Homo sapiens: one gene and its partners. The protein of the gene in region 4 purifies or fractionates together with the protein of the main gene of each other region. This does not show direct contact. Each region holds a gene or a part of one and is shown on either strand. Other genes may lie near its edges. The genes, in order: SLC39A11, CRACR2A, ANKRD13D and IZUMO1.

Evidence for each region.
Region 1: the proteins of IZUMO1 (region 4) and SLC39A11 purify together in Homo sapiens (co-immunoprecipitation; 3 studies listed by BioGRID and IntAct, with this or other methods). This does not show direct contact.
Region 2: the proteins of IZUMO1 (region 4) and CRACR2A purify together in Homo sapiens (affinity purification with mass spectrometry; 2 studies listed by BioGRID and IntAct, with this or other methods). This does not show direct contact.
Region 3: the proteins of IZUMO1 (region 4) and ANKRD13D purify together in Homo sapiens (affinity purification with mass spectrometry; 2 studies listed by BioGRID and IntAct, with this or other methods). This does not show direct contact.

What each region holds. Positions count from the first base shown.
Region 1 is NC_000017.11:72,648,589-72,656,348, forward strand, and holds part of SLC39A11 (zinc transporter ZIP11), read right to left. Parts: intron 681-7,760; coding exon 582-680; intron 374-581; coding exon 215-373; intron 1-214. UniProt on the Homo sapiens protein: Zinc importer that regulates cytosolic zinc concentrations either via zinc influx from the extracellular compartment or efflux from intracellular organelles such as Golgi apparatus. May transport copper ions as well.
Region 2 is NC_000012.12:3,672,859-3,680,618, forward strand, and holds part of CRACR2A (EF-hand calcium-binding domain-containing protein 4B), read right to left. Parts: intron 7,492-7,760; coding exon 7,380-7,491; intron 6,241-7,379; coding exon 6,057-6,240; intron 735-6,056; coding exon 588-734; intron 1-587.
Region 3 is NC_000011.10:67,291,932-67,299,691, reverse strand, and holds part of ANKRD13D (ankyrin repeat domain-containing protein 13D), read right to left. Parts: intron 7,702-7,760; coding exon 7,512-7,701; intron 635-7,511; coding exon 568-634; intron 163-567; coding exon 81-162; exon of another isoform or gene 71-80; intron 1-70. UniProt on the Homo sapiens protein: Ubiquitin-binding protein that specifically recognizes and binds 'Lys-63'-linked ubiquitin. Does not bind 'Lys-48'-linked ubiquitin.
Region 4 is NC_000019.10:48,743,681-48,751,996, forward strand, and holds the start of IZUMO1 (izumo sperm-egg fusion protein 1 isoform 1 precursor), read right to left. Parts: upstream 3,230-8,316; 5' UTR 2,755-3,229; intron 2,253-2,754; 5' UTR 2,180-2,252; coding exon 1,945-2,179; intron 1,609-1,944; coding exon 1,534-1,608; intron 860-1,533; coding exon 773-859; intron 516-772; coding exon 495-515; intron 1-494. Other genes in the region: FUT1 (galactoside alpha-(1,2)-fucosyltransferase 1), read right to left, coding at 6,504-7,601. UniProt on the Homo sapiens protein: Essential sperm cell-surface protein required for fertilization by acting as a ligand for IZUMO1R/JUNO receptor on egg.

The DNA of each region.
Region 1 (7,760 bases), on a different chromosome or scaffold from region 4:
GGTGTCACCTCATTTCTTGACCCACATGCCCTTAGCTTCTTTTCTTTTAGTTTCAGAGAGCACAGTTGAGGAGGCAGTGGGGATGATCTTGGGAAGGGGCAGAGAGGGGGAGGGAATAAGGAAAGGAAAGGCAAATGAAGAAAGAGCATATCCCAAGGCTGGGGTCCCAGCTGGGACTGGGACAGGGACAGACAGGGAGGGAAGGTTCTCCAACCTGATCTGGGCTTCGGGGATGATGTCGTCCATGACCACGTAGACCATGGCACCGGCAGCAAAGGCCAGAGCGTAGGGCAGGATGGGCTCAGCCAGCACCACGGCAAAGGCACCAAAGACCCCGGCCAGGGGCTCCACCATGCCGCTCAGCTGCCCATACCTAAGGAGAGAACAGAGACATTTACCACCGCAGGGGGAGGCAAGCAGACACTCCACGTGCCCAGACTGTTGGCTCAACCCTAGCACATGGATGCATGCCATTCTACGTCATATCTGAGCATGGCAGTGCAAAAGCACATCACTGTTTTGTTGAAAGAAGCCCACATGGAGGATGCTGTGACATGGCCTTGCCCTTGGGCAGCACTCACCAGAAAGCTCTCCAGGTGGAGAAGCCTGCCCCTCGCAAGGGAAGGCTGACAGCCAGGCCCTCGGGGAAATTCTGGATCCCGATTCCAATGGCCAAATTCCTGAAAAACCAAGAAAGCACATGAAGGCTGCTGTCTGGAATAGGTGCTCACACAATGGGAGTCCCTGGCCGAGGCCAAGACCTCCGTGGGTGCTAGGAAGCCAGGAGGAGACCTGTGACCTGCAGTAGGAGAGGAAGGAGAAAGGTCAGGACGTGTGTCTAGGTAAAGAGCAGGGGCTGCAGGAGGGAGTGACGTGAGCCCTCTACCCATCATGCTGTCCTGGGTCCTGGGCAGGCTCTGTCCTTACAATGCTTTGCTACAGCACAGAACACACTGGCTGGCTCTCAGGGTGCCCTGAGTTCTGCCACGTGGCTGTATAACTGCACTTTTCATTTTACTTTCTACGCCTCTGTTTCTTTTTCTTTTTTTCTTTTTCTTTTTTTTTTTTTTTGAGATGGAGTCTCGCTCTGGAGACTCCAGGCTGGAGTGCAGTGGCATGATCTCGGCTCACTGCAACCTCCACCTCCCGGGTTCAAGTGATTTCCAGCTAATTTTTGTATTTTTAGTAGAGATGGGGTTTTACCATGTTGGCCAGGCTGGTCTCCAACTCCTGACCTCAAGTGATCTGCCTGCCTTGGCCTCCCAAAGTGCTGGGATTATGGGCGTGAGCCACGGCACCCAGCCTACACCTCTGTTTCTTGTATACAATTTAGGGACAACAATATCTACCATAAAGGATTGCTGAGTGACCCAGTGACCCAATAATGCCTATCACATCCTAGCATAGAGAGGTGCTTAATGCATTTTGGTTTCTATTCTGTTACAGCACAGAAATGAGTATATCACATTTTATTCAGAGGCCACTTCAGAAATGGGACAAGGAAGTGCAGCTGCAGACGCTGATGGTGCCACAGATCTGGCTCTGGGCTCAGCTTCTCCGTGGGCTCTGCAGGTCTGGCACCATCGCTGCATTTCTTTGGGCCCCAGTGGTGCTCACAGTGATCCTCTCACCTCCTGCCTCTGCAGGACAGTGACAGGCTGTGCTGATAGATGCCTGTCTTTGAGAAGCTGCTTTCTGCACAAACCAGGCATTGGAGTGTGAGAGGAGGGAGAAGCAAAATGGGATGCGTACAAATGCAATCTGTGACCACATGCCTGGCCTCAGGGGGCTTAGTATTTAGCCATGGAGACAACACAGGCATGTACATGAAGAACCCTTATTGTGGATGCTGCAAACTACAGCAAATCAGCCAAAAGTCAACTTGCACAGGAAACAGAGGCATGAGGGAAGCAGAGGAGGGAAATGGGGCCAGTCCGAGTGCCTTAGGAAGGCCCTTTTGCACGTGAGACTCTACCTTGGCCGGACAGTTCCAAGAAGCAGCCCCTCCATGAAGGGCCATCTGATCAACAATGATCTAAAGGGCGTGAGAAGAGGGTGCCACTCGGCAAGCAATGCTGGTGTGTGGCCCGAGGGAATTGTGGGTAGATTAGATAGAGAAGAGAAACTCCACCATCACCGACTTTCAGGTCAACTGGCTCACGTCCATCCATCTTGCTGCCAATAGGAATCTACCCATTGCTGCAAGGGAGTGTTGTAGACTGGTAGCTGGGACCCCTGCCTATGACCTGCCCCAGGCTCCCGGGACTGGGACACACTCGTGGCCCTGAAGGTCCTGTCAGGCCTGATCCGGCTGAGGCCCAAGTTCCAGCCTCTAACAAAGAACACCAAGGCGAATCCCCAGTTTAGCATCTGACCTCCATTTTGTTTCAGGGTTTGGCCTTTACCCTGTTTTTTTTACCTTTATCCCCCAACTCCTGCACATGTTTCATTGAGGTTCGTAGTTCCAGATACCTCAGGAAGAAGTAGCCCCCACCTCGAGTCTGCCAGTCAAGTAGACTCTTAGGAAAAGTCCAGCCCTAACAGAATCTCATACCTGTCACCACTTAGCTCACATGTGGTTCATAGAATTAGTGCCCATCCCTTTTTGACAAGATTACAATGAGCCCCTCAGCATCTACCCATCAGCTTAAAATCTGCCCCTGTGTGCAACAGCGTTGAGAGCCACTGGCCTAAGCAGGCATCATGGGAGGTGAGGATGAGGAAAGCAGTCAAGCCCACCCCCCTCCCAGGAGCCCCTTCCCTGCTATCCCAATTCCCAACACAGGCTGGGAGCCGAGGACACCTGTGGCCACTACTGAATGCATCAGGAGCCTGCAGCCCAGGGTGCTTACTGTATACAAGATCTGATGTGGAGAGCTCTGGAGGAGATCCGGAGCAACACAGGACAGGAGTAACAAAACAGGTGGCATTAGGGGACATGGATATGTAACAGAAGTGATGGAGAATAGTGAGCACCCCGTGGCAGGGATGGTCCCCCTAGGGTGGGGTTGGGGGAAGAAGCCCTGAGCTGACTTAGGAGCTGTGGGGCCTAGACTGGCTGGGGGTGGGAAACTGTGAAGAGGGACAAAGCAGCTTCCCCAGGGGGCATCTGAAAAGTGATAGCATCCGAAAACTGATCAGTTCCTTAATAAAGGAAATATTATGGTCTCTTGGGACTGACAGAAGCATTGAGCCTGTCTCTCCAACCTGCAGGCAGAACTGTTCATGAAGTGGAGTGGACAGACAAGAAGACACCCCACCACACCAGCCCAGGACATGTCCACAAAAGCTGCATCACTCAGCATTTCCCACGAGTCTACCCAAATCCCTGTCTATATCACCCAAGTTTGTGCTCTCCTTTGACTCCTTAGAGAGGGGCTCAAACATGCTCCAACTTCATCCCTGGATCTAGGGGGCAGCAAACTTTTTCTGTCATGGGCCAGATAGTAAATATTTGAGGTTTTGCAGTCCACTGAGTCTCTGTTGCAACCACTCAACTCTGACATTGCAGGTGCAAAAGTGGCTATGGACAGTACATAAACCATTGAGTGTGGCTGTGTTCCAATAAAACTTTATCTACACAAATGAGTGGGGGGCCAGATTTGGCCCATGGGCTGCAGTTTGCTGACCCCTGCCCTGATAGCTCAGTGGCTGCAGAAAGATCTGGCAAGATGAAACCACAGACCCTGGGCATTGCAGACCCTATCTCTTCTTATGTTCTCATGGCCATGCATGTGGTAGTTGAAGTTTGGGCTTTGCAGTCTGACTTCTTCTGTCCAAATCCTGGGTCTGTGCTTTGTTAGCTGTGCTACTTTCCATTTCTCCAACTGCAGAATTTGAAGAACAATACCCACCCTCACTTCACAGCGTTGCTGATATGATTACCTGGGATGGTCCCTCTCAAGCCCTTAGCACACGGGAGCTAGTATGCAGTAAGCACGTAATCAATGCCTGTCCTGGGGTGAGGGTGAGTGTTATCACTGAGGTTGCAGCGTGAAATAACAGAGACAGGGACTTAAAGCTTTTCCAAGAACTCATGCGTCCTCTTTCCAAGAGAGACTAAGATTTTCTACCCTAAAGCCAAAACTCATTCCTCTGCAAAGCTCTGTTTCAAAGAGACCTGGCTTGGCTGTTTTGCTTATGGCTCATCTATGCTTGAGTTTCCATCGGCACTCACTCATTTGCTCTTGTTGACACTTGTGTGAGATTTTTACATCACTTGTAAGATTTTGGTGAGAACCACTGTGCAACCTGAAGGCATTTCAGATACTGTGTTCCTATATACTGCTTGGTCTGTTTGGGTTGTACAGAAACTCCCGGGAGATGTGGATTCTTGCTTCTCCTAGGCTGGCACATATAGAAGAATTCCTTCTATCACCTCCAGACCCCCCTGAGCCCCAGTAAATGTCTGGAGGCTGGACGCTTCCCTGGGCACAGAGGAGGGGAGAGCTGCTGGAAGGGAGTAGGGGGCATTCTGATGAGCCTGGTGGGCTTGACTCTTCTGTTGCACGCTTTTTTTTTCTTTTTTTTTTTTGAGATGGAGTCTCGCTCTGTCATCCAGGCTAGAGTGCACTGGCACGATCTCAGCTCACTGCAGCCTTCACCTCTGGGGTTCAAGCGATTCTCCTGCTTCAGCCTCCCGAGTAGCTGGGATTACAGGCATGTGCCACCACACCCCCCTATTTTTTTTTTGTATTTTTAGCAGAGACAGGGTTTCAGAATATTAGCCAGGCTGGTCTCAAACTCCTGACCTCAGATGATCCACCTGCCTCAGCCTTGAAAAGTGCTGGGATTACAGGTATGAGCCACTGCACCCTTTTTTTTTGTTTTGGTTTTTCTTTTCTTTTCTTTTCTTTTTTTTTTTTTGAGAAGGAGTCTCGCTCTGTCACCCAGGCTGAAGTGGTGCAGTGGCGTGATCTCAGCTCACTGCAACCTCCGCCTCATGGGTTCAAGCGATTCTCCTGCCTCAGCCTCCCCAGTAGCTGGGATTACAAGTGCCCACCACCACGCCCAGCTAATTTTTGTATTTTTAGTAGAGATGGGGTTTTACCATGTTGGCCAGGGTGGTCTCGAACTCCTGACCTCAGGTAATCTGCTCGACTCGGCCTCCCAAAGTGCGGGATTACAGGTGTGAGTCACCTCACCCGGCCTGCTGCACTTTAAAGTATGGAAAGCTCCATTGGATAATTGAGCCCTGGGGGTCACCTCTGAAGATTTTGTCCTGGGCAGCTGGGGACAGTTTTACACTTCCCTGAGAAGTGCTTCTAGGAGGTGAGGCCCTGGGCAGGAAGTCAACTGTAGCTTACATATCCTCCACATAGTCTTGATCTGTCCTAGTTCAACAGGAGAGAAGGATTTGGAGAAATGAGACAGGATGAAAAAGGAAATCTAGCTACAGATGTTTAGGAAAAAGGTGTCATTCTGGTCCCTTGTGTTTAAAATGTGCGTGTGTGTGCGGAAGGGTGGGGCATGGGGAGTGAGCGGGTGGCCCTGCTTAGCCATCTTGCTTTTCCTTATTTTCTGGGTCCCTAACATGTCTTCCTAGCCAGTCTATAGGGGCAGGACAAAAGGGTCAGGAGCTCTCTTCCTCACCTTGAAAGGTCCTAGGCTCCCCTCTTCTGCTGCTCTGCCAGGGAGGGTGATGGGTGCCGCTTCTGGCATTGGGTATAGGATCGGAGTTAATGGCCTCACTTCTTCCCTCTGGGGCCCCAGGCCTAGGACTCGAAAGCTAGCTTTGGAAGACACTGTTGAACGTTGCTTCAGTTATAGGATGCTGACAAGCGTGTTCTAACCAGCCCTGGGCAGAAATGCGGCCTGTTCTCGCAGCTTCTGCTACCAATTTCATGTGCAAGCTGACCCTGAGCTCCTATTCCAGGAGTTGGAGACATGTGAATATATTTATGTTGAGGACAAATTCTTAAGGATAAATTCTTGCCAATATTTCATAAGCCCCTGCCCCGCCTTCCCAGATAGACCCTCAGGGGGGCCCCTTCCCTGCGACTTTGTTCAGCATCTCCTTGTAGCCCTCAAAATGGTTGAGTGAATACAACCAGCTTCCTTGACCTTTTGCAAAGTCCGAAGTGCAAGGTTTCTTTCCAATGAGGAAGGCCAAGGCTTCTGATATCTTGGGCTTTGCCAGGCACTTGGTGGCTGGCTCTCAGTCCGCTGCCATTGCCTGCACCTCATATTCACAGGCAGGCACACGAAGGTAGCCGCAGAGTGACCAGCCCAATGTCACTGACAAATCAGAGGTGGGGCTCCCCATCCAAAGTCCTCGCCGTGACATAGCGCTGACTACAGCCATCGCCCGGCGGGCTGTGGGAGCCTCCTCCACATCCTGTCTGGGAGCCACCATCCTGATAAGCAGCACAGAAACCCCATTCTTCCATCCCTGGCAAGCCTCGTTACCTCTGCCTTGCCCCAGCCCTGGCACGGGGCTGCCAGCCCAAACAGCTGCCATGCCCTCTGGATCCTGCCAGGCCTTTCTCAGCAGGGCATTGCATTGCTGGGCGGTCAGAGTCCCTCCTGACACTCCTGGGCTCCTTTGCTCCCCAGCAGGGGCTGGCACCACAGTTTCTCTGCCTTTCCTACCTGTCATGCACAACACTGCCTAACTGGGCTCTCCTCCACACACCCGTGCACACGCACAGGCCCATCCAAGTTCCCTCGCCCCGCTGCTTGTTGGGCATTGGTCAGAGGCCCACTGGTGGGGGTGGCCCAGTGGAGGACACAGTCCCTTCCAGCCCTCTCCTCTTCTTCAATCACCTGCATCAGCTCCAGAGTGGGATTTGAATCCACGGCTCTCAGACCTGACGACACATGCCAGTCACAGGGAGCACCGGCAAATGCCGATGCCTCGGCCCTGCCCTGGAGATCTCGGTTTATTGCCGTGGCATTGGGCCCCCTGTGTGCAGATTTTAAGAGTGTGCGAGGGCGTTGAGAGCCACTGGCCTAAGCAGGTGTCAGAGGAGGTGAGGATGAGGATGGAGGCCAAGCCCGCCTCCCTCCCAGGAGCCCCTTCCCTGCTATTCGAATTCCCAACACAGTCTGGGAGCCGAGGACACCTGTGGCCACTACTGAATGCATCAGGAGCCTGCAACCGGGGTGCTTACTATATACAAGATCTGATCTGGGGAGCTTTGGAGGAGATCTGGAGCAACTGAGGGCAGGAGCAGCAAAGCAGGTGGTATTCGGGGATATGGATGCATAACAGAAGTGACAGAGAATATTGAGGACCCCGTGGCAGGGATAGTCTCTCAGTGGTAGGGGGTGAGCCGTGAGCTGACTTAGGAGCTGTGGGGCCTAGACTGGCTGGAGGATGGGAAACTGTGAAGAAGAACAAGGGCAGCCTCCCGGGGGGCTGGTGGCGTGGAGGATGCCCCAGGCTCACCAGCTCCCCTCCTGCAGCCCTGCTGTGCATTCCTGCAAGGCCTTCAGTCTAACTAAACACTCTGAGCTGACGATCCTGGGCAGGTGGGGTTGGTGGGCCATTCCCTCCCTCCTTTACGCTCTGGGAAGGGAAAGGTCAGATGAGAGGTTTCCTTTCCAGGATGGGCCATGAAAATTCAAAACAGCATTCAAAAGCCACGGGGAAAATACAAACCCATGCCCTTCTGAAGACAGTGAAGCTGCTGTCTTCTGGGTTCTGTTCCTCCCCAGCAGTAGCACAAAGACACTATTACTAGTCTGGACCACGACACATTAATGGGAAGGAGAGGGAAGTGGAGATGAAGGGCTCTTTTAGAAAAGAAACCGCAGGC
Region 2 (7,760 bases), on a different chromosome or scaffold from region 4:
GAAGAGACATGAGGCCGTGACGGGAGAGAGCGGCCAGGAGGAGGGACATTCAGCAGGGCTATAGGTCACCTTACCAAACACGCCACCTCTGCAAAGTGGGCTGATCTGGCCCTGGGGGATGGCCCAGTATGCTGGGGTCTTACTGCCTGGAGGCAAGCAGAGTGATTTTTCTTCTGGTCACAGGCACCTGGCTAGCTCACTCCCAGTCCTGGCTCTACTGTTCACAAGCTATGCCTTCTGGGGTGTACTACTTAACCTTTCTGGGTTTCCAACCCTCCGCCTGCAAAATGTGCAGATAATAAATGTGCAAAATGATAACCAGTCCCTCCTTCAAAGCGTTGTGGTGAGAACTAAATAAGCTAGTGTATAAAAAGTATTTAGAATAGTGCCTACCATATAGCTTAAAAAGGTGACGGAGAGCTTAAAAATACATATATCGTGACAGACACAGGGCCTGGTCCCCACTTTGGCAGACAGCAAAAGGAGGCATTGCACGATGTTTTGGCAGAAGATCTAAGAGAAAGTGCACCGTGTGTCTCTCTTTTTCACACATAGTTACAGAAAGCGGCTGACACTGGGGTACCCACCTTTTTAGGGCACACTCCAGTTCATTCTTCTCCTCATGGGCTTCTTGGAGCTGGGAGATGATTCTGGTCAGGAAGTCTTCAAAGTTGGACAGTAAATGAGGTTCCTCCTTCTTCAGCTGCAACCAGAGCTGCTTGACATCACTTTCACTGCAAGAGAAGGGACGCTCATGTGGAAGTGTGGAGATGAGGCTTCACGGGAAATACAGAGGTTCCCAGACAGGAAACTGACAGCCAGAAACAGTACCGTCAGAATCATTATAAAGATGACAGTAGCTAACGTGGACCGAATGCTTGCTGCATGTGAGGAGCTTCAAGGATATCAGCTCATTTCGTCCTCACAATAACCCTACAAGGCAGGAGCTGCAATTACCCCATTTACAGATGACGAAGCAGGTGAAGAGAGGTGGAGTGAGCTGTCTAAGATCACCCAGCAGTCACTGATGGAGTCAGGGGTCCAGCTCAGGGCTGTCTGACTCCGGTGTTGGCCTCCTTCCCCACCTCGCTCTGCTGCTTCTGTTCTCCCGTGGCCTTCACGACGGGCTCGTGGGGCTGGGCGTGCACAGCAACATGCTCTGGTGCATCTCCAAATGCCAGGAAGAAGACAGGAGGACAGGAGCCCAGTGCGTTTAAGGACACACACTATGGAGCTAAAGCAGAGAGCTCGTTGCCCCCAGGAAGGATGGTCCTCACTGCTGAGAGGTAAAGACGTGCCATGTGATGGATGGCAGAAAGCAATTGTCACTGCAGGAAGGGAAGAGAATATGCAGCACCCCACTGTGGCCTAGTGGCACTAGGGATGACTGACAGGCAAAAAGAAGGGAAGGAGCAAGTCTGAAAGATGCGCACACACAGAAAGACAAGGCGAGAGAGACTTGGGAGACCCAGAGGCCAATAGACAAAGGCACAGAGGCACGTGTGTACACAGCTCAGTGACAGAGATACAGGGGCTCAGGCTGACACCCAGGGAGGGAATGAGGAGGAGACACACATGGTGGACCCTGTTCTCCCTTTCTGGGGAAACTAAAAAATCTGTGGCCAATGATCAAGCTAAGTTAAACATAAATCTGAAAGAGGATAGGTTTTAATTCAATAAAAGTTAATAATTTCTCACAGCTAGCAGACAGTAGAGTGTTATAGCATCAAGTTTGAAAGTTATATAATAATAAACAGTAGAGTTCAAGTGAAATTTCACAGGCTAGTTTATTATAAATTATCAATTAAACTTTATTCTAGCAAAGTAGAGAATAAATATAAATCTTATCCCGCAAACAATCAGGCTTTTGATTTTTTTAAATTAATGGGCACATATGTATTTTCCAACACTTTTTTCACATCTATATAACAAGATGTAATAACTAGCTCAGTTCATTGTCTTCTCAAAGTCTTTTGTTACTTAAATATTCACTCTGTGTCTTAATCTTTCAAGTTTCCAGCTATTGAAAATATAAGTCCTTCACCTCCTTCCATCCTTTCAACATAATTACATTTTGATTTTTTACTCTGTTAAACTTTGAGACTTTATGTAATGTATATTTCACATTTAATTAATTTAACCTGATTATGGAAAATCGCTTATGACCCTCGTTTTATGAGGATAAAGTTATCTGTATGCCTATACTTCTCTTGAGCTCTTTCCAAAATTTGCTTGTCCATTACAGTCATCTGCACCTTGACAATCTGCCACCAACAGATTCCTGTTGGCTCCCCAGGAATCCTCAGGATAAAGAATAAAATTATCTGTGCTTGTATAACAAGCATTATATTTTAGAAATTTTCTTCGGAAGTGATATTTGTTAGTGTCATGCTAGCAATGCCCCTGTGGTATAGACATTACTCTCTGCACCCTGCAGAGAAGAGGCCCACTGAGAAATGGGTGGTGACCTCCCATCCCTGTGGCAGCTTGCTCCCTGCTGTGGTGTGAATGTTTATATCTCCTACAAATTCATATGTTTAAATCCTAACCCCCAACATGATGGCATCAGTAGGTGAGGCCTTTGAGAGGTGATTAGATCATGAAGGCAGAGCCCTCACAAATGGGACTAGTGCCATTGACACTGTGTTCTATAATTAGTATTGTTTTAAAACTCTGTATGCTAACTCCCAAATATGATATTAAATAAATGTTTATACTATTATGACTACATAAATAATACCCCTGGAGAACCAGGACTCTTCCTAAAATTACGCCATTATTTGTTTTACTTCCTTTCCCTGTCCCACTTCCCCAAATCCCTTGCCAGTTTCTTCTGGGAGTACCTCACTAATAAATCACTTTAAGACAAAAACCACAAAAACAGAAACGTAAATGTGACTTGTCTTCCATTAAATTCCAGAAACAGAAGATCTGAGGATAGCTCTGACAAGGAACCCTCAGGAGAAGGAATAAAATCCTTTGTGCTTGCGTTATTAAGCATTATATTTTAGAAACCTTATTCAGAAGGGATATTCAATAGTGCCATGCTAGCAACGCTCTTGGGAAATGGACATGACTCTCTGCACCCAGCAGAGAAGAGGACCACTGAGAAATAGGCCCACCTCTGATCAGTTATCTGGTCATCTCTAACACTTCATCCCTCTCTCCCTCCTTTCCTTGCTCCATCACTTCCACCAATTCTTTCTTCTATCCCATCCAAACATCCGCGTACTTATTTAGACCATCCATCCATCCATCCATCCACCCACCCATTTCCTTATTAACTCAACAAGTATTTATTATGATCTGTTGTAAACCTTGCACTGTACTGGATGTCATGGGTGAATCTGGGAAATGGGAGAAAAGGAGGTAAGGAACCTCTCTGTTTCTCAGAATGAGTTCCATTCCTCCCAGCCCCACAACACACACACAGCATGTTGTGGGGGTCTTATTTCATCCTATAGGTAAAATTTAGATGTGGCAAAGGGTTCAGAGATAAGAGGGTCTCAGAGAGACACCATGGTGACCTCCCATCCCTGTTATAGGTTGTTCCCTGCTGTGGTGTGAATGTTTATATCTCCTACAAATTCATATGTTTAAATCCTAACCCCAACATGATGGTGCCAGAAGATGAGGACTTTGAGAGGTGATTAGATCATGAAGGCAGAGCCCTCACGAATGGCACTAGTGCCCTTATAAAAGAGGCCAGAGGAAGCTCATTCACCCTTCCTGCCATATGAGGACACAGTGAGAAGACAACTGTCTGTGAATGAGGGAATGTGACCTCATCAGAGAGCAAATCTGCTGGCACCTTGATCTTGAACTTCCTAGCTTCCAGAACTGCCAGAAATAAATTTTGGTTATTTATATAAAGTACCACATCTATGGCAGGTATTACAGCAAACCAAATGGACTGAGACACGCCACCATGAAGTAAATGCATTGTAAAATCAAGGTTCACCTTGCCAGCCCAGGTCTGTCTGTCCACACCTGCCAGGTTCCTGATGGAGCCAACTGAGCTCAAGTCCCCAGTGAGATTTGCAGACCCACCTGCTCCTCTTCCAACACTCTTTGAACTACTTAGTCATGGCAACAACAACTTGCCCCAGATTTCTGGAGAAGGGACAAGTCTTTCAACTTTTGATGAAAAACAAGCCAAAGCTCACTAAGCTGCCAAATCGCTTAGCCAATCGGACCACCAAGAAAAGTCAAAGTGCAGATGCCCAGTCTCGAACTTCTAGAACACACCAAGGCCACCCCTCCTGGGAGGATATGGGAGTATAGGCTAGAAAGGATTCTGGGAGGTTTATCAATCCATTTCACTGCTTCCAGAACAACACACAAATCATTTTGGTGAGCAAAATCTTTAAAGAGCCCTCAAATATTCATAGCCTTTTCTATTTCCCTATCTGAGGTCTCACAGCCGTGAATGTTTCCCTCATGCTGCAATCTAAGCCCACTTCAGTGAGGATGGAAGTGGCTGGTCACCATCTTCTGTGTATCATCTTTTACAGACCACTCTTGAAACCTCCACAAAACCTCCTCTTCTTCGGGACATCTCATTTTGGCTCAGTTCTGCACTGCCTTACTATAGGTCCTCAGAGTCACGTCTGGTGGACTCTAATTGAGAACCTTGCCAGTAAGGCTGCTACCCTGCAGTGAGGGCTGGGCAGAGAGGCCCCTTCCTTCCGTTACGGTGCCTCAGCTCACCTGCACTGCCTTCTCCTTCCCCCTTCTCCAGGAGGAGGTGTCACACTGTCACCAGGAATGGTCTCTGTGCTCTGGCCTGTTGTCCTTGGAGAAGCTGGGTCAGGTGTATGACTAATGAGCTTCCCACCCACCTGTGCCCCTTCCACCTGCCAGCTACACCTTCTGTGGTCGACACCTGCTGCAGCCCCTTCCAGGCCTTCAGCAAACCTGCTACTGCTGCTGGTCTTGAGTTCCACTTCCTGTGTAGCGCCCCCACCAGGATCTTCCCCAGGCACTTGCCTATCCCTTTCTTGCCTGGAACACACTTTCGCCAGCCTTTCCCAGTTCTGCCACAGTCTACCAAATTGTTTGCTGAAAAATTCACAGAGCTTCGGCCTGCAAATCGTATATAGGCCTCTTCTCTCTTGTCTCCTTTTTATCATTTTCCACCCTAGCCCCTTCTCTTCCCAAGCTCAGGAAATGTCAGCTGTAATCAGTAGGGCATTCCCACACTACAGGAAACATACATCTAACCCAAGACCTAAGGACCCCAAAACAAAAAGGCCAAAGGCAAAGGCTAAAGGGGCAGAAGGTATTACATGCTTTTCAGGCCCTCTGTTTGGTTTCTACTAGCTGTAACACCACATTTTCCTTATTTTATTTTACTTTACTTCAATGTCAGGGCTTAGATCCCTGTGTCTATTCCAAAGCACATTTTAGGAAAAAAAATGGTGGAGGGGTAGTTATGTTTTGTTTGAGATCTCAGCCATCTACAATTTTCCAAGTAGTGGCCTGCTAAAAACTGCTTCATTTCCCACCTTGGCTTCCTGCACAAGCCTGGTTTGCCGAGGATACCGTGTGCAAATGCTTCCACATGATGGGTTTTGGCCAGGAAGGCACCCACAGCTGGGGCAGCTGGGAGGCACCGTAGCTCTAGAGACCCAGGAGAGGTAAAGATGCTGGGGAGCTGATGGTGATAGGAAGCCTTAGGGAGAACTCCATGAAAAACCCTGAGAGCATGGTACAGACCTCTGATGTGTGAGTGCCTCATGAGGAGCAAGGCTGAGCCAAGGACTGGGGGATAATGCATGGCCAGGAGTGAGGAAGGTAGAGGGGGTGGGAGAGAAGGAGAATAGGAATGATTCCTAAAGAAAAAAAAATGTAAACAGCAGAGACAGAGCCCAACACACAGCCAGGTCATCACAAAGGACAGGCCCCCACTGGCAGAACCAGCGGGCCTTTACCTGCACTGCATTCCAGTGCAGGGACCAGCACCACATGGTTAACAAATGTTAATTGTTGAATGGACACAGGAAGAGGTTCCTACCAGGCTGGTCTCCGTTCTACAAATCACTGTCACCACTTACTCTTCCAACACCTTTTGGGCTCCAAGTCTGTCCATCAGCATCCGGAACTGGGCTTCCTCATCTTCGCCCATGTCGCCCAGATCCTCATCCCCTCTGGACAGATACACCTTCTCTTCATGGCGCTGGGCCACCTGTTCACCTGCATCTTCCTGACTTGGGTTATTCTGGCTGAAGAAGAAGTGACCTGGGGGGTGCAGGGCACAAGGATCCGAATTAGACCATACCCATCCAGGAAGAGCTCAGCTTTCTCACCTGCCAGGAATCATTGAAGGTTCATCTGAGAGAAGGAAAGGGAAGGGAAAGCCCCTCCAGCAAAGATCCATGGACATGGGTCCGTGGACACGTTCCAGATTCTGTGACTTTTCCACTTCCACAAACACCCCATCAGTGATGCTAGAATCTGGGAATGGCAGAATGTAAGACGGATACGGTGTCTCCTTTGTGGTTCTCAGTCCCTTAACATCTGGCTTAGAACGCATCTCCGTTGATTTCTTCTTTAAGCAACAAGGCCTTTCCCTGCACTGCATTCCAGCACCCTGACTGCAGAGGCTCCTATTGTCATCCTAGTCATCCTCCCGCTAGCATCACTAGACTTCACATCTACAAGCTCCTTAACAGTTTCCAGTGTACTTCCTCCATACTCATACTGTCCAGTGTTACAGCAGTCTGTCTTATCCTCCCAAGTCAATTAGAAGCTCCTGAAGGTCAGGAAAGGCATCAGATACTTACAAGAAAATTATATGGCCCCACACATAAGGCAGATATATGGCTTTTGATGTATCTGATAGGATAGTGTGTCTGGTTTCTTTATATTGTTCATAGATCTCGATTCTTCTTCCTCCTGGTTACCTTGAGAATGTCTAGTCTGTTCAAACCTTCTAGAAATTCCTCTGATAGCTGTTATCCCTCAACCTGGAAAATTCAGCCAGACTTGGGTTGGAATGAGCCATCCAGTTGTCCCACCTTTTGGCCATTTTTCTATGAAGGCAGAAAAGGAGAGGCTGCAAATCTCATCACAGCTCCCCCTTTTATGCTATGGCTTCTGCAGAGCTTCCGTCCATCTCCCTTGCCAGTCCCAGTGGGAGGGAGCTTGGTAATGGCAGTGCAGTGGGCACTGAGCAAGCGGCAATGTAAGCAGTTGAGACGGGCATGTGAGGAGGCCCAAGCAATCTAGAGCCTGGAGACCTTGAGCTCCAGGTCCCTGAAAGGAGGGCAGGAAAGCTTTACTACCTGCCCCCCAGGTCTACAAGGGACAGGAATGCACCTTATACAGTGTTAGGTAGACCCATAACCCTGAGGTCCCCAGCACCCATCAGAACTTACTAAATCCAGTAGTGAACTCCTGTGGGGTCAGATAGCCATTGCCATCAGCATCCAGGGCATCAAACACATCCTCCAGTTCCTCCAGGCTGAGCGGTAGCTCCTTATGCAGCCTCTGAAAACAACCCAGAGTGTACTGGTTAACACTGACACTCACTGGTGGGGGAGGTGACCTGGGACTGCAGAGCCTTCTGCCAGAAAGTGTCTAGAGTTCGGCCCAGTCCTACAAAAGCCAGTAGAAAGCTTCTGCATCCAGACTGCTTCACCATCCCTCTCCTCCTTTGCATGTTAGCACAACTACCATTGATTGGGTGCCTACGAATGTACTAGGCCATTTGCTAGGTGATTTATAAATAAACAAATATGTAAATATGCATTTATTTA
Region 3 (7,760 bases), on a different chromosome or scaffold from region 4:
AACTCTGGCCCCTAATCCCAGGCCAGGGTGACCCCACCACACGGTGTGACCGGGCAGCAGGCAGGCGCACCTGGGTTTACCTTTGCTCCTCGACTTGTCCTGATCAGAGAGGTGCTCCGTGCGTGTGCGTGTCACCAGCTCCACGTTGGTGGCACTGTACACCTGGGGAGCAGGGGACACGGGGAGCTGGGGGCTCAGAGCCTGCTCCCCACACTCAGCCTCACCAGTGCAGAACCCAGGTCCTCCTGTCCCAGAGACAGATGAGATCTTGCTCCCCAAAATGGAGGAGGTGGCAGGGTCTGAACCCCAGGAAGTCACCAACGAGGAGATGCAGCCCCAGGGTCAAGAGGAACACACTCCTCTTTTGATCTCGGTACCCTGGGTAGGGGCCCATGATGTGGGTGAGCCCTGTGTACTCCGCAGGGGCTGGGCACTCAGGCCCGCTGAGTTCCCACAAATGCTCAGGGTTTCCAGAGCCCAGGGGCTACTCTGGGATGGATGTGGAGAGGAGCTGAGTTCCTGGACCTCATCTCCTACCCCCAGCCCCCCACCCCTAGCCTCTCCTGCCTTGGCCTCGTAGCCGCTAACAGTTTCCATCTTCTCAGACCGCCAGCCCCAGATACCACATTTGTTCCTGAAACAGACCAAACAGGAGCTGGTGAGACCTGCACCCTCACACGCTGGCCAAAGCCTTCCTTTCCAAAGCCCCCTCCAGCCAGCCTGCCCGGGGTGCCCAACTCTCAGGGCCCCTTCTCGCTATGAAACATGGAGGACCCCTGAAGAGGGTGCCTGGACAGGGGGGGACACTTGAGCATGGACTTGGGACTAGAAGACACTGAGGAATTAGCATGAATCTTGTGAGGTATGATAGTGTCGGGGCTGGGTTTAAAAACATCCTTGTCTTTTAGAATTGTGCAGAAGCATTTACTAGAAACATTAGGACATCTGGGATGAGCTTTGACACACTCTAGGAAACATTTTTAAAAAAGGTAAGGAAGGATAGATTCAGTAAGATTGGCAAGATGTTGATAAATGTTGAAGCTGGGTGATGAGTAAGTACATTATCTCTTCTTTCATATATGTTTGAAATTTTCCAAAATAAAAAGCTAAAAGAAAAGTATGTCAGTTGGAGACTCCAGTACCCCACTTTCAATAAGGGATAGAACAACTAGAAGATCAACAAAGAACCAGAAGATAAGAACAACACTACAGCTGGACTTCATAAGCAGGCTAGAACACTCTACCCAATAACAACCACACACACGCTTCTCACGCGCACACGGAACACTCTTCAAGGCCATACACTAGGCCATTAAGAAAACCTCAATAAGTCCGGGCGCGGTGGCTCATGCCTGTAATCCCAGCAGTTTGGGAAGCCAAGGGGGGTGGATCATGAGGTCAGGAGATCGAGACCATCCTGGCAAACATGATGAAACCCCGTCTCTACTAAAAAATACAAAAAATTAGCCGGGCACGGTGGTGGACGCCTGTAGTCCCACCTACTTGGGAGGCTGAGGCAGGAGAATGGCGTGAACATCGGAGGCAGAGCTCGCAGTGAGCAGACAGTACCACTGCACTCCAGCCTGGGCGACAGAGCGAGACTCCGTCTCAAAAAAAAAAAAAAAAAAAAAAAAAGAAAACCTCAATAAAATTGAAAGGATAGAAGTCATACAATGTATGTTTTCCAACCACAATGGAATGAAATTAGAAGTCAATAGCAGAAAAAAAAAACTTTGGAAATTCACAAATATGTAGAAAGTAAACAACACACTCCTAAATAGCCAACGTCTCAAATAATAAATCAAAAGAGAAATCAGAAAATACTCTGAGATAAACAGGAATAAAGACACAACATATCAAAACTTATGGCCGGGCACGGTGGCTCACGCCTGTAATCCCAGCACTTTGGGAGGCCGAGGCAGGCAGATCACAAGGTCAGGAGATGGAGACCATCCTGGCTAACACAGTGAAACCCCATCTCCACTAAAAATACAAAAAATTAGCCGGGCGTGGTGGCAGGCGCCTATAGTCCCAGCTACTCGGGAGGCTGAGCCAGGAGAATGGCGTGAACCCGGGAGGCGGAGCTTGCAGTAAGCCGAGATCGTGCCACTGCACTCCAGCCTGGGCGACAGAGCAAGACTCCCTCTCAGAAAAAAAAAAAAAAACCAAAAAACTTATGAGACACAGGTAAAGGCCAGGCCAGGCCCGGTGGCTCACGCCTGTAATCCCAGCACTTTGGGAGGCTGAGACAGGCAGATTGCTTGAGCACAGGAGTTCGAGACCAGCCTGTGCAACATGGTGAAACCCCATCTCTACTAAAAACAGAAAAAATTAGCTGGCGCCTGTGTTCCCAGCTACTCAGGAGGCTGAGGTGGGAGGATCACTTGAGCCTGGGAGGCGGAGGTTGCAGTGAGCTATCACACCACTGCACTCCAGCCTGGGCGATGGAGTGAGACCCCATGTCAAAAAAAGAAAAGACATGCCTAGAAGTATAAATGTAATATGTGTGAATGCCTATATTAAGAAAGAAGATCTCAAATCAATAACCTTAACCTAACCTTCCATGTTAAGACAATGGAAAAAGAGCAAACTAAACCAGAAAGAACAGAAAGAAATAATAAATATTACAGTAAAGGTTAATGAAATAGAGAATAGAAAAATAATAGAGAAAATTAATGAAACCAAAAACTGGCTCTTCGAAAACATCAACAAAATTGACAAACCTTTAGCTAGGTTGACCACGGTGGGCAAAAAAAGAGAGAGAAGACTTGGCTGGGGGCGGTGGTTCACACCTGTAATGTCAGTGCTTTGGGAGGCCAAGGCAGGAGGATTGTTTGAGGCCAGGAGTTCAAAAGCAGCCTGGATGACATAGTGAGACCACATCTCTACAAAAAAAGAAAATTAGCTGGGCTTGGTGGTGCATGCCTGCAGTCCCAGCTACTTGGGAGGTTGAAGAATCACCTAAGCCCAGGAGTTCAAGGCTGCAGTGAGCTCTTATCATGCCACTGCACTTCAGCCTGGGTGACAGAGTAAGACTCTGTCTCAAAAACAAAACAAAACAAAACAAAACAAAACAAAACAAAAACTTCAAATTACTCACCAGAATCAGAAATGAAAGAGGGGAGCAACAGAAATAAAAAGCATTATAAAAGGATACAATGATAGCTGTACACCAACAAATTTTATAATTTAGATGAAATGGACAAATTCCTAGTGAGACACAAACTACCAAAACTAATTTGAGAATAAATAGATAATCTGAATAGATGGATAACAAGTCAAGAGACTGATTGGTAAATATAACAACAAAAAACTATACACACATACACACACACACACACACACACACACACTCAGGCCCAAATGGCTTCACCACTGAATCCTACCAATCTTTTGAAGACAAATTAATACCAATTATTTGCAAACTATTAAAAAAAATAGACAAAGAGGTGACATTTTCCACTTCAGTTATGAGGCATCACCCAGATACCAAAACCAGACATATATCACAAGAAAACTACAGACCAATATCACTTATGAATATGGACACAAAATCCTCAACAAAATACGAACCAACCAAATCTAGCAACATATGAAAAGAATTATACACCACAACCAAGTGGAACTTATCACAGGAATGCAAGGTTGGTTCAATATCCATAGGTCAATTGATGTATCAATAGAATTTTTTAAAAAATCACATGATCATATCAATAAACACAGAAAAAGCATTTCACAAAATCCAACATCCTTTCATGATAAAAACACTCTAACAATGAGGAATGGAAAGGAATTACCTTAACCTGATGAAGGGTATCTACCAAAAACTCACAACTAATATCATACTTAATGGTAAGACTGAATGTTTTTCCCCTAAGATGAAGAACAAGACAAGAATACAAGGATGTCTGCTCTAACCACTTTTCTTTTCTTTTTTATTTATTTATTTACTGTTTTAGATGGAGTCTTGCTCTGTCACCCAGGCTGGAGTGCAGTGGCACAATCTGGACTCACTGCAACCTCTGCCTCCTGTGTTCAAGCAATTCTTGTGCCTCAGTCTCCCAAGCAGCTGGGACTACAGGTGCCCACCACCATGCCTGGCTAATTTTTTTTTTGTTTTTGTATTTTTAGTAGAGATGATGTTTCACCATGTTGGCCAGCTTAGTCTCAAACTCCTGACCTCAAGTGATCTGGCTGCCTCAGCCTCCCAAAGTTCTGGGATTACAGGCGTGAACCACTATGCCCAGCCTGCTCTAACCACCCCCCTTTTTTTTTGAGATGGAGTCTTGGTCTGTCGCCCAGGCTGGAGTGAAGTGGCGTGATTTTGGCTCACTGCAAGCTCTGCCTCCCGGGTTCACACCATTCTCCTGCCTCAGCCTCCTGAGTAGCTGGGATTACAGGCGCCCGCCACCAAGCCTGGCTAATTGTTTGTATTTTTAGTACAGATGGGGTTTCACCATGTTAGCCAGGATGGTCTCGATCTCCTGACCTCGTGATCCACCCACCTCGGCCTCCCAAAGTGCTGGGATTACAGGCGTGAGCCACCGCATCCAGCCTCTAACAACCTTTAATCAATATTCTACTGGAAGTTCTAGTCAGAGCAATTAAGCAAGAAAAAGAAACAAAAGGCACCTAAATTGGAAAGGAAGAAATACAACTAAATCTATTTACAGATAACATAATCTTATATGTTAAAAAAAATACTGAGGAAAGGAATCCACTAAAAATCTACTTGAATGAATGAGTTTAGCAATGTTGCAGGATACATGGTCAACATACAGAAATCAATTGTAATTTTATACATTTGCAATACACAATCAAAAAATAAAATTAAGAAAAACATTTGATTCATAATTGTATCAAAAAGAATAAAACCCTTAGTGGCCAGGCACGGTGGCTCACACCTGTAATCCCAGCAAGGTCAGGAGTTGGAGACCAGCCTGGTCCGACATGGTGAAATCCTGTCTCTCTAAAAATGCAAAAATTAGCAAGGAGTGGTGGTGGGCACCTGTAATCCCAGCTACTTGGGAGGCTGAGGCAGGAGAACTGCTTGAACCCAGGAGGTGGAGGTTGCAGTGAGCCTAGATTGTGCCACTGCACTCCAGCCTGGGCAATAGAGTGAGACTCCATCTCAAAAAAAAAAACAAAAAAACAAAACAAAACAAAAAACAGAATAAAACACTTAGGAATAAATGTAACAAAAGTGCAAAGCTTACACTCTGAAAACTATAAAATAATGTTGAAATAAATTAAAGAAGATCCAAATAAATGGAAAAACATCCCATGTTCACGGATTAGAAGACTTAACATTGTTAACATGGTACTATTCCCCAAACTGCTTTATAGATTCAGTGCAATTCCTATCAGAATCCCACCTGACTGTAGAAATTGACAAGCTGAATCTAGAATTCATATATTCTGCCTACACTGGGTTGTGAGAAAAAAGAAAATAGAATTCATATAAAATGCGAGGGTCCCAAAATACTGAAATAACCCTGAAAAAGAAAAACAAAGTAGGAAGACTCACACTTTCCAATTTCAAAACTTATTGCAAAGCAACAGTGATTAAGACAGTATAATATTGGCATAAAGACAGACATGTAGACCAATGGAACTAATGTGGGAGTCAGAAAGTAACCAATTTATCTATGGTCAACTGATTTTCGACAAGGGTGACAAGACCATTCAGTGGGAAAAACATAGTCTTTTCAACAAAGGGGGCTAGGACAACTGGATAGTCACATGCAAAAGAACCTTCCACTATACACAAAAATTAACTTAAAATGGCTCAAAGACCTAAGTGTAACAGCTAAAATTATAAAACTCCTATGACTCAATAATCAAAAGATGACCCAATTTTTTAAATGGGTGAAGGGATAGGTGTGGTGGCTCATGCCTGTAATCCCAGCACTGTGGGAGGCCCAGGTAGGCAGGTCGCTTCAGCCTAAGAGTTTAAGACCAGTCTGTAGACTCTATCTCTACAAATAACTAAACAAAACAATTAAATGATATAATAAAATAATTACAAATAATTTAAAAATTAGCTGGGCATGGCAGCATGCACCTGTAGTCCCAGCTACTTAGATCACTTGAGCCTGGGAGGTGGAGGGTGCAATGAGCCATGATCATGTCACTGCACTCCATCCTGGGTGAAAGGCCAGACCCCATCTCAAAATAAATAAGTTAATTAAGTTAAATAAAAAATGAGTAAAGGATCTGAATAGACATTTCTGCAAAGAAGATATACAATTGACCAATAAGCACATGAAAAGATGCTCAACATCATTAGTCATCAAAGAAAGGCAAATCAAAATCACAGTGAGCTATCACTTCTCACCCACTAGGCTGGCTAGATTCCAAAAACAAATGAGTGAATAATGACGTGTTGATGAGGATGTGGAGAAACTGGAACCCTCACATGCTGCTGGTGGGAATGTAAACCAGTACAGCTCGTTTGGTAAACAGTCAATTAAACAATGAGTTATCAGTAACCTAGCAATTCCACTCTTAGGTATATACCCAAGAGAAATGAAAACATATGAAAGAGAAATTAAAACATACGTCTACACAAAAACTTGCACATGAATACTTAGAGTGGCATTATTCATAAGCCAAATAATGCAAATAACCCAAATGTCTATCGATGGGTTAATGAATAAACAAGATATGGTATATTCATACAATGGCCACAAAAAGGAAAGAAATAGTTACGTGCTACAACTTGGATGAACCTTGAATATATTATACTAAGTGAAAGAAGCCAGACACAAAAGGCAACATATTATAAAATTCCATTCATATGAGAACTCAGAGCAGGGAATTCTACAGACACAGAAAGTAGATTAGTGGTTGCTTAGGACTGGGAGAGGGGATAAGAAGTTTGGCGAAGAGTTAGCTAAAGGGTGGGGGGTTTCTTCCTGAGGTGATAAAAATGTTCTAAAATTGACTGTGGTGATGTACAAATCTCTGAATAAATATACTAAAAGTCATTGAACTGTATGCTTTAAATGGGTGATCTTATATGGTATATGAGATTATATCTCAATAAAGGTTTTTTGTTTTTTTTTTTAAGTGTTTCCACTGACTGTTAAGGCAAGAGGGGGCATGTGTTGTCAGAGAAACTCTTGCTGGAAGGGTCAGGTTCCTAGGCTACCCACAAAGGATTCTGCCCCCAACACAGCCGCACCAATGACAAGCCAACATTGGTGCAAAGAGCTGCCGTGAACCACAGCCTAAATCTTTGTCTTAATGGGAAAACATATGAGGTCAGAAGTCAAGAAACTGGGGACATCTTGACCTGACCCCTCCCCACAAAGGTGGCCACAGGAGCCCAACCACCCCGGCAGTCTGAGTGAGACACGGGCTGCAGCAACCCACCTGCCCCTGAGCAGCCCCTTGTGAGTGAGCCCAGAGGCCTGAACCAGGATCTTCAAGGATCGCCCTGCCCTCATTAATGGTGGCTCTTGCTATCCGTCCCCATCCCACCCACGGTGTGCCAGGACCCGACCGACCTCTCAAAGGCCACATTACGAGTGTCCAGGTGGGTGGAGACGATAGGAGAGGTGAGGCGACTGGCCACATGCTCCTCGCTGGGCCGCATGGCGGCCAGCAGTGTTTCGGGCTCCTGCAGAGTGAGCCCCAGTGTCTCCACATGCACCACCTGCCGGTCATGGTCCACTTCCATCACCAGGGCTCCTGCCTCTGCCGGCCGGTAGGGGTGGACAGAGGGGGCGCAAATCAGTGCTGGGCGCCAGCAGTGC
Region 4 (8,316 bases):
CAACAAGGCTCAGTAAAGATTGTAAGTAGAGGCCGGATGCGGTGGCTTACTCCTGTAATCCCAGCACTTTGGGAGGCCGAGGCGGGCGGATCACAAGGTCAGGAGTTCAAGACTAGCCTGACCAACATGGTGAAACCCCGTCTCTGCTAAAAATACAAAAATTAGCTGGGTGTGATGGCGGGCACCTGTAATCCCAGCTACTCAGGGGGCTGAGGCAGGAGAATAGTTTGAACCTGGGAGGTGGAGGTTGCAGTGAGCCGTGATCGTGCCACTGCACTCCAGCCTGGGTGACAGGGTGAGACTGTCTCAAAAAAAAGAGTGTAAGTAGAATATGACCTGCTCCCCAAGAAATCCATGGTGCAGAAAGAATACTGGAGACCCAGGAACCTCTCCAAGGCAGAGAATGACAAAACCACCAGGATCCAAAAAGGCGAGTGGGGAGGTTGACTATTCAGAGGGCAGGATGAGGGTTAACTTCTGTAATCCAGACTCACCACATTTGTTGGGACAATAAGCTGTGTCAAAAGAGAAAAAAAGAGAGCAAGAAAGAGATGACAGAGTCAGATTTCTAAATGAAAGACGATGGAAGAGGGGGTTGGGGGAAGAGCTGGGCTTTGGGCTTTTGGGTTCGAGGGAGAAAAGACTTGGGTCTGAAGGAGGAGGCAGTTGGGGAAGCTGAGGAACTGGGCTTGGAGAAGTAAGGGGCTGGAGACAAGGACTCTTGGATAGTGGAAAGAGGAGCTGGGGGACACCGACTCCCATCTTCTCTCACCCTCTTTTTGGAATCGAGCAACATAGGTGGCAAAGGTTTCCTTTTGCAAGTGCAACATCCAAAATAGCTCCTTCACGAAGAGATCGCCTGGGAAGACACAGGAACCCCCAATCCCACGTGTGAGGTGTTGGAAGTTTACTTCTGCCTGCAGAGTCTGGCAGTCTACTTCCTGGCCTTCTCAGGAAAGGGCGCTACAACTGACCGTCTAACATAATGCCAGCTGCTGGGCTAGGCAATGCATATTTTGGGGGATGGGGGAGGGTCTTACCCTGCCACCCAGGCTGGAGTGTGTGGTGTAATCGTGGCTCACTGAAGCCTCAAACTCCTGGACTCAAGCAATCCCCCCGCCTCAACCCCCCAAGTAGCTAGGACTACAGGCACACACCACCATGCCCAGCTAATATGTATACATATGTCTATTTTTTGTAGAGACAAGGTTTCACCATGTTGGCCAGGCTGGTCTTGAACTACTGAGCTCAAGTAATCTGCCTGCCTCAGCCTTCCAAAGTGCCAGGATTACAGGCCTGAGCTACCGTGCCCGGCCAGCAATACACATTTAAACTGAACAACTGAGGAAGCATTTTAGAGCCAAGGGAGCTTCAAAGTCCTTTGCTCAAGGCCGTACAGCTAGGAAGTGGCAGAGCAGGCATTGGAATCTAGGCGGTCTGGGTCCACAGCCTAGTATCTGACCAAGAGACCAGGCATCACTAACGCTGGCTTCTCTGAGAGATTCGGGACTCCCACCCCCTTGATGCATTTACCTTTTACATCACTGTCTGTGATGCGTTTCAGATCCTTCAGCAAACTCCAGGACCCCTTTTGCAGTGTGGCCTCATCTGTCAGAGGAGATATAACCCCAGATTCCAGCCTTACTGTCTCATTGGCGCGCCTAATCTTAGAAACTACAATACCCATGAGGCCACTGGGCAAAGATAGGCCTGGTTAAGGACTCAGCCGCCCGTTGCCTTCTGGGAGTTGTAGTTTTATTACATAAAATTGCCAGCCGAGGATAGGGAAAACGGTATTTACTAGCCTCGGGGAACCTCGGAATCTGCATCTCAGCCTTCTCCATTCCCGAATCCCGGAGACCCTGCTGTCAGCCTCTTCCTTCCCCTGGTCTTATCTCCCTCCTTTCCCAGGACCCAGGGGTCCGTGGTCCCCCCTGCCCTCACCAACGACCCCCATATAGGCATCCTCATTAAGCGACAGTTCCTGGAAATCCTTCACGGCATTCTCTACCCTTTCCATCATGGCTTTGTGATGCTTCGCATCCAGGTGGCCAGGCAGGTAATCTTTCTCCAGGGACTTTAGCGCCAGCACGACAGACGGGTCACATATAACACACCCCTCGGCAGGAAGCAAGCAACCGGCCAGCGCCGCACACAGGAGGGTAAAATGCGGCCCCATTGCAGCCGGCGCGCACAGTTCCCGAAGACCGTTAGGAAGGGTGCTCTCACCCCAAACCGAGAGCAGGAGAACGCTAAACGGAGAAAAGCCAAAATCCATCTTAAGAAATCCCACTGGGCCGCCTATCCATGGGGTCCGCAAACCTCGAAAAGAGGATCTTCAGGAAATCTCCAAATAAAGAGGACCTATGTCCTTCATCAAATGCCTCCGAAGTGTGAAACTGAGCCCCAATCCAGGGGACCCAAAATTTAGGGTTCTCACTGAATCCCCCAACTGAGAGATCAGAAAAACTATTAAACAGGAATCACTCATAAGTCCCCAAACTCAGAACCTGGAATCTCCCAACCCCATGCGCCCCTTCCCAAAATCCCAAACTGTGGAATTTTCCAAGTCCCCAGATTGACGTGAGCCTGAACTCCAACCCTTAAGAGCAACACCGAGGCACTCCCCCGCCAGCCCCCCAAAACCTGTTGAACCTCAAGCTGAAGATTCAATGCCCAAACCAATAAACATCTAACACAGACCCAACCACGATATTATCAAACTCGGAACTCCTTCAAAACCAAAACACATACCAGATTCCTAGAACTGAGGACCCCACTAACACTTAAGCGAGACTCCATGCGGTCCTCTAGACCTAGGGGGCCCTTGTTCACCCTTCCCCAAAACTAACGGGCTCCCAATTTGCAGGGCGCACCCTTCCGCTTAGAAAAAGGAGCCCCGATGCATCCTGAACAGTGATGCACCCTAAACAGCCGCTCCCCGACCTTGGTTCCCGATTTGTGGCCTCTAACACTAGGGTTCATTGAGGAGCCCGGTCCAGGTTCTGAGGGCTTTTAAAGAGGAAGCCGGGGTCATGACCACCTACGCTAATTTTCCCAGGGGTAAAATCAAGGATTGTGTTGGGGACGAGGGTAAGGTTGGTTGCGTGAAATCGAGAGCTTTTCGACGGGGTCTGAGTCACGGACGATCCCCTCTCCACAAGGAACTCCTGAAACCACCCCCTCCGAGCTTCTCACGTAGGGGCCCGAATTCCTTTATAGATATTCCTTGGGGTTTTCCTCGGCCCCACCCAGAAACTCAACTCTGTCTGATTGGACTGCAACAAAGGGAGGTCCCGCCCATCGCTCCATGACGTCACAGAGGCTGCAGCCTTTTTGGACTAGAATTTTCCCAGCATCTAGGGAAGAGGAAGCCTCCTGACTACTCTGGCTTCCAGAGTCAAGGACCGGACTCAGGCCTTCAGTTTCCTCCCCTCCCCTTGCCCCAGGACCCAGGCTTTGGGCTAGATCCGGCCCCCCAGGCCGCTGCCGCCCCCACCGCGGTCCTTGGAAACGGCTGTCGAGCCACGAAGTGGACATTTTAGCCCTAAGACTACAACTCCCAAAATGCCCTGGGGCCTCTTTCTCTGTAGCTGACTGACGCTGCCAACCTCATAGCTTTCCGGGAAATGTAGTTCAGTGATAATCCGCTCCCTCCTCCGCCTCTTCTGCCCACGCGGAGGTCCCAGTGGGAGGAGAGGACTGGGGGCCAATACTGACAGTCCAGGAGTGAGCAACTGGGGGCTCAGACGTTAGGGTCCTGGAAGGTCTCTCTCTCCTGTGTGATAGAAACAGGGAACCAGAAAAACAGGGACCACAACTCACACAAGTCCAGCAACAAGGGGCTGTCAGATCTAAGTAGGGACAGTACTCCCAATCACGAGTAATAAAAATCCTCAGGGCCCGGCGCGGTGGCTCACGCTTGTAATTCCAGCGCTTTGGGAGGCCGAGGCGGGCAGATTGTCTGAGGTCAGGAGTTCGAGGCCAGCCTGGCTAACATGGTGAAACCCCGTCTCTACTAAAAATACAAAAATTAGCTGGGCATGGTGGCGAACGTCTGTAGTCCCAGCTACTTGGGAGGCTGAGGCACCAGAATCCGAGAGGTGGGAGTTTGCAGTGGGCCGAGATCACACTACTGCACTCCAGCCTGGGCCACAGAGCAAGACTCGATCTCTGAAAAAAAATAAATTAATTAAAAAAAAATAAAAGTCTTCAGAAGTACCCCACCTTTTCCTCCACTCTCTTACACACACACACACACACACACACACACAAACCCACACACACATACACAGTGGCTCTGGCTCCAAAAAAGCTACAGAGACACGGGTTAGTGCTGTAGACTTTTAATTCATACCTCCTGCTCTCTCACCCGTGGCAGCTGAGTTGGGAACAGTACTGTAACAATTGTAACTGTAACTCCCTGATAAGCCTACAGGCATGGGGTCTGGATGAGTAGACAGGGGATGTGATCAGAGCTGACTATGTTTAAGGTTTCTTCTTTCACCCTCCAAAAAACAGCAAGGGGCTCCTGAGATCTCGACAACCCCGTCCACCTTGGCCAGACCTCGTGCTCCTGCCTGGATCTGAGGCTGGGTCCAGGGTCTGCCTACCTTTAGATCGTTTTATCTCAGACCTGCCCAAAGCCAGATGTAGTGGTTCTGGGAGTTCAGGGACAGACAGTGGTTAGCAATGAGCACGGTACCTGCCAGTTTGTCACAAGCACAGAGGGTGTGTTTATACCTGCACACTTCCAGAAAACAGATCCCAGACCCTCAGCAGCCCACCTGCAGACAAAGACCAACTTCCTTCATTGTGAGAGGCAACCTGAACTCACACCCAATATATGGAGCTCTTGGCAGTTTATGAGCTTTAAAAAAAAGTGTCCCTGGATCCCTGGAAAGTTCTGCTCCAGAAGCTGTACCATTTTGGCAGTGATCCCTCACCCCACGTTCACATTTTAGCCTGTCTGCTCAAAACAAACAAAAAAAAGTCTTTGAGGGGCTGTGGGGCTTGTTGGACAGAGTCCCGCTCTGCTCACCAACTACCCCAGCTTTTCCAGAGACTGTGAACAGAGCAAGACGCTGGCCAACTAGAGATGGTTTGTTTTCCATCTCAATTTTTCCAGCAATGGTGGAACATTCATTAGATGCTACAATTAGGTTGCACATTCATTAGATTCTTCACTTGGCCCGGTGTGCTGGCTCACATCTATAAACCCAGCATTCTGGGAGGCCAAGGTGGGAGGACTGCTTGAGCCCAGGAGTTGAAGAACAGCCTGGGCAATATCACAAGACCTCGTCTCTACAAAAATTAAAAAAAATTATCCGGGCCAGGCATGGTGGCTCACGCCGGTAATCCCAGCACTGTGGGAGGCCGAGGTGGGCAGATCACGAGGTCAGGAGATCGAGACCATCCTGGTTAACACGATGAAACCCCGTCTCTACTAAAAATACAAAAAAAATTAGCCGGGCGTGGTGGCGGGCGCCTGTAGTCCCAGCTACTCAGGAGGCTGAGGCAGAATGGCATGAACCCGGGAGGCAGAGCTTGCAGTGAGCTGAGATCGCGCCACTGCACTCTGGCCTGGGCTACAGAGCAAGACTCCGTCTCAATAAATAAATAAATAAATAAATAATTAAAAAAAAAATATCCGGGCTGGGCACAGTGGCTCATGCCAGTAATCCCAGCACTTTGGGAGGCCAAGACAGGTGGATGACAAGGTCAGGAGATCGAGACCATCCTGGCCAACATGGTGAAACCCTGTCTCTACTAAAAATACAAAAATTAGCCAGGCATAATGGCCTGTGCCTGTAGTCCCATCTACTCAGGAGGCTGAGACAGGAGAATCGCTTGAACACAGGAGGCGGAAGTTGCAGTGAGCCAAGATCACGCCACTGCACTCCAGCCTGGGCAACAGAGCGAGACCCTGTCTCCAAAAAAAAAAAAAAAAAACTAAAAAGATTCTTCACCTTAGTTATCTGGATTTCCAGAACCCCATCCTGTCCATAAGGGCCCTGCAGGGTTCTTCACAGGCATCAAACCTGGTCCTCTCTAGAACAAGTCTCCCTCTAGAATCACTCCAGAAACACAGAAGGGGACTTGGTGAATGCTTGCTCTGGAGCAATCATATGCTCCTTCAGTCTTTGGAGGACCCAGGGGAGAAGTAACCCCTCTTCTAGAGTAGACCAGAGGGAGAGTTCCCCATTCCTGGGGGCAGCCATCTGGAAGTACTGTAGATATGGGCTGGGAAGAGCAGGTGGGCACTGTGGCTTCTAGAACTGCCTGCCAGCCATCAGGAAAAGATGTTTTGCTAGTTCTAGAATATTCAGACAGTTCCAGAAACGTCCCCCTTCTCTCCAACTCTCCCAACTAGAATCACTCTGGATACGGGCACCCATTTGCTTCAGGAACACCACAAGCTTCTCCAGAAGATGCCAGGCCTCTGAAGCCACGTACTGCTGGCTCTAGAAAGATCAGGCTACTTCAGAAAGTCTCCCTGGCTCTCAAGGCTTAGCCAATGTCCAGAGTGGAGACAAGTCTGCATTAATGCCCACCCACTCGGGCAGGAAGGCCGCCTCCGGCTTAAAGATCTTCAGGAACTCAGAGTCTGGCAGGGTGAAGTTGGCCAGGTAGACAGTGTCTCCGCCAGCCAGGTAGGCAGCCCAGAAGCCGAAGGTGCCAATGGTCATAATGGTGTGGTTGCACTGTGTGAGCAGGGCAAAGTCTTTCCACGGTGTAGCCTCCTGTCCATCGCCAGCAAACGTCACATCGCCCTGGGAGGTGTCGATGTTTTCTTTACACCACTCCATGCCGTTGCTGGTGACCACGAAAACGGGGGCTTCGTGCCGTGCCCGGAACCAGTCCATGGCCTGCCGGAGGTAGGCGCTGTCGCCCACCACACCCTTCCAGCGCTGAGGCATAACCTGCAGATAGTCCCCACGGCGCACGTGGACGCCGACAAAGGTGCGCGGGCGGTCCCCTGTGCGGCCCAGGCGGAGCTGACCCAGCACACTCTGCGCCTCTTCCCGAAGGTGGTCGTGCAGGGTGAACTCTCTGCGGATCTGTTCCCGGAGATGGTGGAAGAAAGTCCAAGAGCAGGGGAAGCCAGAGAGCTTCAGGAAAGGATCTCTCAAGTCCGCGTACTCCTCCGACATCCAGTCGTGAAGCTGCAGCTCCCGCCACGGCGTGCGGCTGTCCACTTCTGGGGCCAGCACGGGCAGGGTGATGCGGAATACCGGGGCCAGGGCGGCATGCATGGCAGGCAGGATAAAGGCCCGGCGGCCGTTGAGCTGGGCCAGAGCCAGCAGCGTGGCATACTGTCCCATCTGATTACCAAACCGGCCATTGGGGTAGACAGTCCAGGTGCCGGAGAGGGAAGCAGGGTGCTGGGGACAGGAAGAGGAGGCGTTGGGGCCCATCGCAGTACCCGGCAGGCAGAAGATGGCCACTGGGGGTGTCACCAGGCGGCGGTCTGGACACAGGATCGACAGGCCTAGGCCATGTGGAAAGCTGTCTTGATGGATATGGAGGAAGAAGATTACAGAGAGGACACAGACTAGCAGGAAGGCCAGGCAGAGCTGACGATGGCTCCGGAGCCACATGGCTGCAGGGGAGGAAAGGCGAATTAGCAAATGCTCTGAGGCTGAGGAGGGGAGGCTGAGGAGGGATGTGGGGTAAGGGAGGCGCCTGGGGTGCAGCACTCCTTAGTCCCAGGGAAAGAGGAAGTTAAAGGTTTAGACTCCTGGGGCTGAGGTAGGGAGAGCCTGAGTCCTAGGTTTCAGGGATGAGAGCCTTGGAATTTCGGGGCATGGGGACTGGAAGACAAGTGGTTTTCAAGATAGCCATGGTTTGGCTGGGCACTGTGGCTCACACCTGTAATCCCAGCATATTGGGAGGCTGAGATGGGAGGATCCCTTGAGCCCAGGAGTTCAAGATCAGCCTGGGCAACAGAGCACTCTTACAAAAAAATTTTAAAATTAGCTTGGCATGGGCCAGGCGCGGTGGCTCACACCTGTAACCCCAGCACTTTGGGAGGCCAAGGTGGGTGGATCACCTGAGGTTGGGAGTTCGAGACCAGCCTGACCAACGTGGAGAAACCCTGTCTCTACTTAAAATACAAAATTAGCCGGGCATGGTGGCGCATGCCTGTAATCCCAGCCACTCGGGAGGCTGAGGCAGGAGAATCGCCTGAACCCGGGGGGCGGGAGTTGCGGTGAGCTGAGATCATGCCATTACACTCCAGCCTGGGCAACAAGAGTGAAACTCCGTCTCCAAAAAAAAATAAATAAAATTAGCTTGGCATGGTGGCACATGTCT